2 linked regions of the Homo sapiens genome follow. The protein of the gene in region 1 purifies or fractionates together with the protein of each later gene. This does not show direct contact. Each region holds a gene or a part of one and is shown on either strand. Other genes may lie near its edges.

What was found.
Region 2: the proteins of SNX15 (region 1) and NT5C2 purify together in Homo sapiens (affinity purification with mass spectrometry; 2 studies listed by BioGRID and IntAct, with this or other methods). This does not show direct contact.

What each region holds. Positions count from the first base shown.
Region 1 is NC_000011.10:65,037,140-65,041,072, forward strand, and holds the end of SNX15 (sorting nexin-15), read left to right. Parts: intron 1-1,432; coding exon 1,433-1,690; intron 1,691-2,546; coding exon 2,547-2,653; 3' UTR 2,654-3,433; downstream 3,434-3,933. UniProt on the Homo sapiens protein: May be involved in several stages of intracellular trafficking. Overexpression of SNX15 disrupts the normal trafficking of proteins from the plasma membrane to recycling endosomes or the TGN.
Region 2 is NC_000010.11:103,099,071-103,106,369, reverse strand, and holds part of NT5C2 (cytosolic purine 5'-nucleotidase), read left to right. Parts: intron 1-568; coding exon 569-664; intron 665-988; coding exon of another isoform or gene 989-1,012; intron 1,013-5,043; coding exon 5,044-5,135; intron 5,136-5,267; coding exon 5,268-5,325; intron 5,326-5,405; exon of another isoform or gene 5,406-5,618; intron 5,619-5,688; exon of another isoform or gene 5,689-5,707; intron 5,708-6,350; coding exon 6,351-6,444; intron 6,445-7,299. UniProt on the Homo sapiens protein: Broad specificity cytosolic 5'-nucleotidase that catalyzes the dephosphorylation of 6-hydroxypurine nucleoside 5'-monophosphates.

The sequences.
Region 1 (3,933 bases):
AGTCCCTGCTGGGCAGCTAGCTGCCTGGGCAGGAGCTTTTCTATTTTTTTTCCTCTCCTTTTTAATTTTTTTATTTTTTTTTATTTATTTTTTGAGACAGAGTCTGGCTCTGTCACCAGGCTAGAGGGCAGTGGTGCGATCACGGCTCACTGCAGCCTCCAACTCCTAGGCTTAAGCGATCCTCCCACCTCAGCCTCCCAAATAGCTGGGACAGGACCACAGGCATGCACCATCATGCCCAGCTAAGTTTTTGATTTTTTGTAGAGATGAGATCTCACTATGTTGCCCAGGCTGGTCTCAAGCTCCTGGACTCAAGTAGTCCTCCCACCTCAGCCTCCCAAAGTGCTGGATCATAGGCATGAGTGACTGTGTCCAGCCAGGATCTTTTCAAGACCCTTCACAGACAGCTCCAATGAGACATTCACTCAGCCCATGGGAAAAGTCCCCAAAGCCTGGAACTGCAGTGTGCTCAGACACTGCCTTATTTCCCTACCCTGCCATGGTGGGCACCTCCAACAAGCCTCTCACCACCAGAATTCTCGAGGCAAGGAGTGGGCACCTGTGTCTCCCTTCTTCACAGCAAACTCCTTAACTCGAGTGTGCAGGTGTCCCAGGTACTCTTCTGCTCTCTGCTCCCTGAGCAATACATGGAGGGCTGTAGGCCCAGCCAGGAGGTGCCTTCTCCCTCCTGCAGGAGGCCCGGACTTCTCAGGGCTCTCATGGAACTCACAGGGATGGGGTTAGAGAGGCACCCACTTTTTCCCTCTCCAGGATGATAGGGTATCATGATGCTTCCTGCCCCCGCACCTTCCCCTCAGAGGCCTTTTCACCAAAGGTGCACCAGATTTCCAGTCGCCTCGTGTGTAAGCTGCAGGTAGGATGTCCGACCCCCTTTTAGCCAGTCCAGGGGGATATAATGAGCCTTTACCTGGGAAATGTGAGGACACCTGTCACTCACTGTCTTTACATTTGGGGGCCTCAGCTGAAACTGCAAGGCTTCAGAAAACCCCTGAGATTCTCTAAGTCTCCTATTCTAAGATTATTCCAAGTCTTGGAGCATTTCTACCCTCAGCCTGGTGGTGGTGGCCTAGCATCCTTCAGGGAAACTTTCTGGAGGGGATTTTTGGATTTCTAGGTCAACTGGAGTCAAGAGGGAAATAGGACCAGTGACCCAGAGCTTACAAACTAGAGTGTGTACCTAAAGACATAATTAGGAAGGTAAGGCTGTTTTTACAGAAGCACATGAACCCTATCGATCAAATAGCTCATGGCTAGTTTTTGATCCACAGACGACTTCTGGATTGCTCTGGCATTGGTCCCCTCTACTGGGGACAGGCTGATACCCTGATGGACAAAAGAAGTCTTGGGGTTGGGCAGAGGGCCTGGGAAAGGAAGGGCCAGTCTGGTCCGAGTCCTCCCTTTCTAACTGCAGAAGGCGCAGCCCCCAGCCCCACCCATGTGGCTGAGCTGGCAACGATGGAGGTGGAGTCTGCAAGGCTGGACCAGGAACCCTGGGAGCCAGGAGGGCAGGAGGAGGAAGAGGATGGGGAAGGAGGGCCCACCCCTGCCTACCTAAGCCAGGCCACAGAGCTCATCACCCAGGCCCTGCGGGATGAGAAGGCAGGCGCTTACGCTGCTGCACTCCAGGGCTATCGAGACGGCGTGCACGTCTTGCTTCAGGGAGTCCCCAGTGAGTAGGGACTGAGGGTGGAGGGTCAGGCCTGGGTCCCAGGTGGGGCAGTGATGAAGGGAGCAAAAAAACAAGCAAATCACGGATCAGGAGCCCTTTTACTCCTCACTGACCAGCTGTGTAACCTGGGCAGATTTTTGTTTCTGTTTTTTTGTTGTTGTTGTTTTTAACCTCTTGTGGCCTCAGTTTTCTTCTTCCTCTTTTTTTTTTTTTTTTTTTGAGACAGAGTCTTGCTCTTGTTGCAGGCTGGAGTGCACAATCTCGGCTCACTGCAACCTCCGCCCCCCAGGTTCAAGTGATTCTACTGCCTCAGCCTCCCGACTAGCTGGGATTACAGGCGCCCACCACCATGCCTGGCTAATTTTTGAATTTTTATTTTTTATTTATTTTTATTTATTTATTTTTATTTTTTGAGACAGAGTCTCGCTCTGTCGCCCAGGCTGGAGTGCAGTGGCACAATCTTGGCTCACTGCAACCTCCACCTCCCAGGTTCAAGCCATTCTCCTGCCTCAGCCTCCTGAGTAGCTGGGATTACAGGCACGTGCCACCACGCCCAGCGAATTTTTGTAGTTTTAGTAGAGATGGGCTTTCACCATGTTGGTCAGGCTGGTCTCGAACCCCTGACCTCGTGATCCACCCACCTCGGCCTCCCAAAGTGCTGGGATTACAGGCGTGAGCCACCGCGCCCAGCATGGCCTCAGTTTTCTTATTTGTAGACTGAGGAGAATGGATGCTGGGCCCCAGAGAGGAGGGAAAAGCACATGGTGATGCTCTGCGAATTGTAAAGGACCCGACCAGGGGTTCTGACCAGGCCAGTGGTGCCCAGGTGCCTCAGCTGAGCATTCTCTCTCCACAGGTGACCCGTTGCCTGCCCGCCAGGAAGGTGTGAAGAAGAAGGCAGCTGAGTACCTGAAGCGGGCAGAGGAGATCCTGCGCCTGCACCTGTCTCAACTCCCACCCTAACAGGGAGTGGGCCATTCCCTGGGACTCTCGCTCCTGCACTGCCAGCCCCTTCTCCTCTCCCCAGGGCCTGGCCCTACCTCCTGGTCTTGTAATTACAGGAGCCATTTCTGTAGGTAACTGGACCAAGAATGAGAAAAATAATGAATTCTTAGCTCCCTGATTACACCTGCCACCTTGGAATCAAGGACTCACACTTCTGACCCTGCCTGTCTTTTTGGGGTTTTTTTGAGTTGGAGTCTCGCTGTGTCGCCCAGACTGGAGTGCAGTGGTGGGATCGCGGCTCACTGCAACCTCCACCTCCCAGGTTCAAGCAGTTCTCCTGTCTCAGCCTCCCCAGTAGCTGAGATTGCAGGCACATGCCACCACGCCCAGCTAATATTTTGTATTTTCAGTAGGGACGGGGTTACACCATGTTGGCCAGGCTGGTCTCGAACTCCTGACCTCAAGTGATCCACCCGCCTCAGTCTCCCAAAGTGCTGAGATTACAGGCATGAGTCACTACGCCCGGCCCATGTCTGTCTGTCTTGATGTGTGAGCAGCAGCTGTGGTCATTAAACCATTAGTTTACCCCTCTAGAACTGGGGTCTGCAAACTCCCACCTGCAGCCAAATCTGGCCCACCTCCTTTTTAATGTAAGGGCTGTGAGAGTGGTTTTTACTTTTTTTAATGATTAAAAAAATCAAAATAATATTCTGTGACAATGACAGGTGAAATTTATATGTGACAAGTGAAAATTATATGAAATTTAAGAGTCCATAAATAAAATTTGTTGGAACACAACCAGGCTAATTCATTTAGTATTGTGATAGCTGCTTTCGCGCTACACTGGCAGTTGAAACAGTTGCAGAGTTGAGTCTTTGCCGCCTGCAAATCCCAAAACATTTACAACCTGGCCCTTTGCAGAAAACATTTGCTGGCCCCTGAGCTAGAAAATAGGGAGCATAGTCTCAGGGAAATAGAGGACAAGCCGATGGAGCCGGTTTATTGGGTGGAAGGGACGAAGGAGAGGAACCCAAAGCCCGGGTACTTGTCTCAGAGGCCCCAAAGCCAAATCCTGATTGCTCAGCGGGCTGGAAGGCGTGGCCTCAGCCCCGCCCCGCCCCGCCTCACCACAAAGCGGTTGGTTGCGGCAGGGACTACACCGGTGTATCATGGGAGCGGCCCGGGCTACACGTTAAAAACACTAAGGGGAGCGCGCGAAGCTGAACTTGGCGCTCGATGGGGGCCGTTAGCCGCCCTAGAGCGCGCGGAGCCGCAGAGGCGTAGCTGGACTACAACGC
Region 2 (7,299 bases), on another chromosome or scaffold:
ACTGAGGAAGACCCACTTACAGGTAAAAAAGGAGATTACTAAAACTGATGGGCAGTAATCACAGGTGGTGCTATTTGGGGCTGTTGGCAAATAGGTACGTGTTTCTCTAATACACTTAACATGATAGAAGCTTGGCAGTTTCCATTTCTGGATTTGATAGGGAATATTTAAGATTAAGAAAATGATGTTTGAGATGCTATCATATATATCCCACATACAGCATCTAATGGAGAAAAATATAAGCCTTCTCAGTTGTCCAAGAAAAAAGACTATGTTTTAGAATGGTACCAGCTGTGTAGTAAGAAGAATGTTTTTTATACCTTGTTTGATTAAGCACTTATTCCTTACAGAAAACAATTATGATTTTCTGTCTGGACGGAGTCAATATTTTTTAGTTGCTTTAGAATTAGTTTTTAAGATTTTACTCACTTTAGCTATATTAGGACATACTTTGAGTTGGTACAAAGCTTGAATTAAATGAGGTTGGTTCATGATGATTAAATACTACTACATAAAATTATTGCCTGTATTACTTTGCATTATCAATAATGTCTTCATTTTCACATAGGGGACTTGTCTTTGACACACTGTATGGAAATCTTTTGAAAGTCGATGCCTATGGAAACCTCTTGGTCTGTGCACATGGATTTAACTTTATAAGGGGGTGAGTACAGAGAACCTTTAGCCTCTTTCTAATGTTAAAGTCAAACAATGTGAAGATGACATCATCTCCCCAGATGTAATATATTTCCCTATTACTTTTCATCATTAAAGAGCAAATTCCCTTACATAAGGTTAGTTAACAGTTATTTATTAGGCAGTTGGAACCCAAACTGACATATAGTTAGCAATTACATTTTGTTTAAATTAAGTGCCTTCCAATTATACAGCATACAACAAAACTAATCTTAAAACTTGCCCAGAAGAACTTTAGTAGTTTTGACTTATTTGAAATTCTAAGATTTTTATTTTCTTCTTTCTAATACAGTTCTCAGGTAGCTGTTCAGAAGAGGTATGTATATAAAAATGCTTTGAAAAAATTTTAAACTATAGCAATTTAAATGATTAAGAGATTTTTAATAGCCAATACGTTTTTTAGATTCTAATGAATCTAAACTTTGAATCCTGACATTTGATTGTGTCATTAAAAAAATGTAAACATAAGGTTAAAGTGAATATGTGCTAATAATATTTTAAACAAATAAGAATAAGCTTTATTTTCAAAATAAAAATATTTCCACTATTGTCACTAATTTGAACTTTTTACCCTAGTAAACAGCAGATGAAATTTAGTATCTACTATTTTTTTGTGAAATGTCCCGATATTTTCAAATCATAATGCCACAATTTGACAACTTCTGTAGCTATAGCTTTACTGTTATACATTTTCTCTACTGTTATGCCACCTTATTTACTATTGACATTGTATTAAGGTCAGAACAACAGCTCGTAAAACCAGAATAGGATGTGTGTCAGTCTCTTATGTAACTTTTCCATTTACTATTCATTCTTGATGGCAGAATAGGAAAAACACCAGGCTACATTGAAATGTTTAAAAAGACAATGTCTTTTTTTGTGATAAGAGGCACAAACCAACTGTAATTGTACCAGAGCTTCCTTTAGATTTGAGGTCACAGGATGCCCCTTAGAATTGAAGCATCTAAGACTCTTTAGTTGGCATTACTGACATTACACAGGCTCAGAGATTTCCATGTATACATGAGAACGGTGTGAAGTAAACACCCATCTTGACACATCTGAGCAGGCCAGTGATTACATCCACATTTCTTTCACTGTTTCTTTCATGAGGGGGTTTGTTCAGGATCCATGAAAATATCAGGAAACAGGATTTAGAATATGAAGTAATTACAGGTTGTACTAGTAACTTAAGCTATTTTATACACAGATATTGTCATCATAACTCAGAATCTCAATGAAGATGAACCAGGGTTCTATTATGTCTAAAAAGGAATTTTTGTATTATAAGGGAGGGGTAGGCAGAGAAGAAAAGAGAAGCAGTTGGATAAGTTAGTACTACGATCAAATTTCCAACTCAAGATCCACAGACTTCCTCTCTTCCCTTAAATAAGCCAATAAAGTTTCCACATAGCTCCTTTGCTAATGCATTTAATAGTGTTTCAAAAATAAGTCATTTATGAGTAAATGCAGAATCATTCAAATAGCACTTAGCACTGTGCAGTCTTTAGAGTTAAACAGAAAAGCTGGCCAGGCACAGTGGCTTACGCCTATAATCTCAGCACTTTGGGAGGACAAGGCAAGAAGACTTCTTGAGCCTAGGAGACCAGCCTGGACAATAAAGTGAAACCCTATCTCTACAAATATCAAAAATTAGCTGGGCATGGTGGTACATGCCTTTGGTCCCAGCTATATGGGAGACTGAGGCAGGAGGAGTGCTTGAGCCCAGGAGGTTGAGGCTGCAGTGAGCTGTGTTGGTGCCACTGTAGTACAGCCTGTGTAACAGAGCAAGACCCTATCTCAAAAAAATAAAAATAAATTAATAAAATTAAAATTCCCATGAAAAGAAGAGACTGAAGATAGAGGGAAAGAAAGTTATCGAAGCTATTACAGTGGTAGACAAGGCTGGAAAAGAAGGACTCCATCAGGCTTTGCTAATGAGTTAGGACCTTATTTTTTGATAAATTTTTATTCTGTGGGTCACAGAAAGTTAGTAGTAATCTGTGCTGTAACTGTTTTCTTCCCATTCCAAGTGTAGCATTTCTTTTATGATATATTACCTCCCCCAAATTGATTTTTATTTTAAATATATACTAGTGTGATTTGACACTGAAGTTTACAATGTAATTGCTAACTATATTTATAAATCAATTTGGGTTCTAACTGCCTAATAAATGTTAACCATCTTTATGTAAAGGAATTTTTCTTTAATGATGGAGGGAATAGGGAAGTATATTGTATCTAAGGAGACAGTGTCAGCTTATTAAATCTAACTGAAGAAAGTATATTTTTACTGTTACCTTCCACCTTACTTTTATTAAAGAAAATCTTGGAAAGCTAGAAGATAAGATACTCTACAAAGTTATTCATTATTGGGAACTCTCATCTCAGAAGAGTGACTTAAGACAGGGAGCTAATGTGATTTTTATATGTCTAACTAGAGTTTATGCCATTTGTAGTTAACAAACCCAGGCAGGAATTAATCCAGGTCACTCTGAGTGTGAGCTTTAAATTTGATTTCCTTTATTTACATTGTTAATCTCCATGTATTCACTGTCAGAACTGTGCATTTTTATATTTTAGTATTTTTCCCTTTGAGTTTCTCTGAAATGTTTTCTTCTAGAAGTGTTTTTGCATCTTTAACAAATTCTGCTTCACTGGCTTTTTTCTTTTAAACCTTGAATTTTCTTCATGGTTCTGTTCTGTCTCTTCTCTTCCTTCTCTGCACACTAAGTGGTTTCATCTCCTCTAATACTTTTCATGATTCCATCTAGTATCTGTACGTAGATGATCTCAGTTATCTCTCAAGGCTGAATCTCTTTTAAGTTCTTGACCTTTGTTTCTAATTGCCTAATAAAAATCAGTTTACTTCAAACTTAGTATCACTAAAATAGAACTACTCTCACATCACTTCTTATCTAGTTTTCATATTTCTGTTCATCGTACCAACCACCTCTCAGAGACACCTTAGCATGGACATCATCATCTTTGACTCTTTAATGTTCCCCCAGCCAAATCTGCTCAGTTTGCCGGGTCTTATTTTACCTTGGTAATCTCTCTTGAATATATGAGTGAGCTGAGATCACGCCACTGCACTCCAGCCTGGCCGACAGAGTGAGACTCTGTCTCAAAAAAAAAAAAAGAAAAAAGAAAAAATTCTGAGAGTCAACTGGGTGATTCTGGGTTGCACAGCTGATCTCTCTATGCTCTTTCACATGTCTGTGGTTAGCTGGTGGGTGACCTGGCATCTGATCTACAATGGCCTCATGCACATGTCTGGCATTCACAGGCTGTTGGCCGAGTGCTTCATTTCTACATGTAGCCTTCTATCCTCCAGCAGACTATCTCACTGTCATGCACATAGTAGTCCATGGTTCCAAGTGCTGCAAGAGAGATTAAGCCTCAATACACACATGTTTTTCTAGGTCTCTGCTTGGATCCCATTTGCTGCTATACAAGCCTATATTCAAGGATAGAGAAATAGACTGAGTTCTAATGGGAGGAGCCACAAAATTGCATCACAAAGAGACAGGAAGAATTTGTGGCCATTGTTGGAGTGCATCACATTGTCTTTCCCCAGTTTATCCTAAAACAGCCACTAATTTAATTTTGTTTTACAACTCAGCCCCGATGGGATTATCCTCTGCTTTAAAACTGTCAGTAGTACCCTCTTGCCCCTAAATGGTGTAGAAACAGTAGCTTAATCTGCCTCAACCCATCTTTCTAGCTTAATTTTTCTCTGCTCCCCTTTCTCTACCCAAGTTGGACTAGTTTCACAACTGGTCCACCTAGCCTTTAAGGCCCAGCTCATATACCAGCACGTGCATGAATCCTTCCTAGATTTTCCTCTCCTTAGTCCTCACATTTGCTTCTCTCTACCTCTTAAGTTGAAATGGTGTTCCCTTCTTTGGTTTTCTCATAAATGTTTGCACCTTTCTTGTAGTAGTTGTGATTTTTTACCTTATAATTATATGTGTATGTGACCCACCTCGCCCACCACACTGACAACTCTTTTAAGAGCTGGAACCTAAGCTGGACATCACACCTGTAATCCCAGCTACTTGGGAGGCTGAGGTGGGAAGATTGCTTGAGCAATCTTCAGGAGTTTGAGTCCAGCCTGGACTTAAAATAGCAAGACTGTCTTAAAAAAAAAAAAAAATTAAAATTAAAAAAAATAAAGAGCTGGAACCTGAACTCGTTCATCTTCATAGCTATCCATGCGTAATATTCGGAATTCTGTCTTGCACATAGCCATCAAAATATTTGAGTTAATTTTTGAATAATGCTATTTCCCAATTATTATAATGTTATTTTAAAAATCAGTTAATTTTTAAATTTTTCTTTCAGACCAGAAACTAGAGAACAGTATCCAAATAAATTTATCCAGCGAGATGATACTGAAAGATTTTACATTCTGAACACACTATTCAACCTACCAGGTAGATTCATTCTATGCTTATTTATACTGATGCTTTCCCTTCTGTGACCATTAGTCTGTATTCAAGGGAGGTAATGAAATAAGTTTGAATTATTTCATTATAGCTTATGAATATCTGTTCTTCATTTTTCAGAGACCTACCTGTTGGCCTGCCTAGTAGATTTTTTTACTAATTGTCCCAGATATACCAGGTATGTATATACTATAATTATTTTTTTCCAATTGATTTTTAAAATTAATGCACAGGGTTTTAGAGAACTGGCCATTGTAGGTCTTTTCTGCTTTTCTAAAGTGAATTTAGTGCTAGTGAGAGATGCCACATTGCCAACCTGAGAGATGGGACAGCACCAGCAGCTCCATGCAGGCTCTCACCTCCCACACGGCCCCTCTCCTTGCCAGTGTGCTGCAGCCACCACTTCTGATTGGCTTCTCCTGGGAATGAAGACGGCCAGCAGAGGTGCTAATTGTGACAACTGAGTGGGAGGTTTGTGTGATGATTATCTGTCCAAGCAGAATTACACTAAAACCCCCCAACTCATTTCACAGCAGCTACCCAGGAGCCATTCAGGGATGGTAATTTAATTTCATTCCCAGGCCAGGCAAGATTTGATTAAGGAATAAATACTGTGTATCTTATCAGAAGTAAAATTTTGCGTAAGTCTTAAACAAGTTATCCTCTCCCTTTAGGGAGAATTATATAGCCAATACTGAAAGTTTAGCCATCTATATACCAGAGTTGGCTAACTTCTTATCCTCTTTGGGCTTTATCCACTTGAAGACACTAAATTTGGTGGAAAGCTGAGTCACTGAACTAAATAAAAAAATGGACAGTACCTTTGTACTTAGGGACAGTGTCAGGAAAGTCAGGGTGGAAAGAACCTAAATGACCAATTTTAAGTTTTAAATGTTTCTTCAACCTGTTTCTAAAAAGTGATAAATAAAAAAACCTGACATTTTTGGAACTTTGGCCTTTTAGCTTCCATTCAATATATTCTTCTATCACTTTGTATTTGTTCACAATTACTGTATTCCATTGAACACTATAGCCATTTCTGGTGGTCAAAGTGGACTTTCATTAGGGAGTAATTATTTTCCTCATTAGCCACAGCCTTTACCCATGTGATATGGAACCTTTGGGTCCCCTGGGAAATTTTTGATATATATTTTGTTTACCCTGTTTTGGATCCCCTGTCATGTTATTTTTATCTTTCTGTAGTTGTGAAACAGGATTTAAAGATGGGGACCTCTTCATGTCCTACCGGAGTATGTTCCAGGATGTAAGAGATGCTGTTGACTGGGTTCATTACAAGGTACCTAGAAGCTGTTTCTTCACCTGCTTGCTTTCTGGCATGTATTTTATGGCGTGGCATTAACTTTCCAAATGGAGCAGAATATTTCTTTTTTTAAAAAAAGAAAAAACAGATTTGCCCCCGCCTAGTGATAGCCCTCTAGAATACATTTGTTCTTGTCTTTGGTCTCGGTGGTAATGTTGATCTTTCCTCAGTGATGGTGTTTGGCTTCTGGATTTTATTTTAGTTTGCATTTCTCAAACTTAGAAGAGGTTTTAGTGTATTACATTATACTTAACATATCCTTTGTGGATGACAGTGGTCCATTTTTTTTGTCCAGATACCTCCCACCCGACTAATAACATTAATAAATATTAAATTTACATGTATTATAAACTATTGAATAAAATATGAAATGCCTTTTAATTTCAAACTTAAAATAGAAACTGTTTTATATTTTGAAGACAAATTTTAGAGGCAGGGTTGCAGCAAATCATACCTGCTACTTTTTTCTGGCCTTCTCTAGTTTGTCCACTTTTCCATTTTGGTAAATCCTTAAGAAATGCATTTGGGGCTGGGCATGATGGCTCATGCCTGTAATCCCAGCACTTTGTGATGCCAAGGCAGGTGGATTGCTTGAGCTCAGGAGTTCAAGACTAGCCTGGGCAACATGACAAAACCCTGTCTGTACAAGAAATACAGAAAATTAGCCAGGCATGTTGGTGTGGACCTGTGGTCCTAGCTACTTGGGAGGCTGAAGTGGGAGGATCACCTGAGCCTGGGGAGGTCGAGGCTGCAGTGAGCTGAGATTGTACCACTGCACTCTAGCATGGGCAACAGGGTGACCTTGTCTCAAAAAAAGAAAGGATTTGGGTT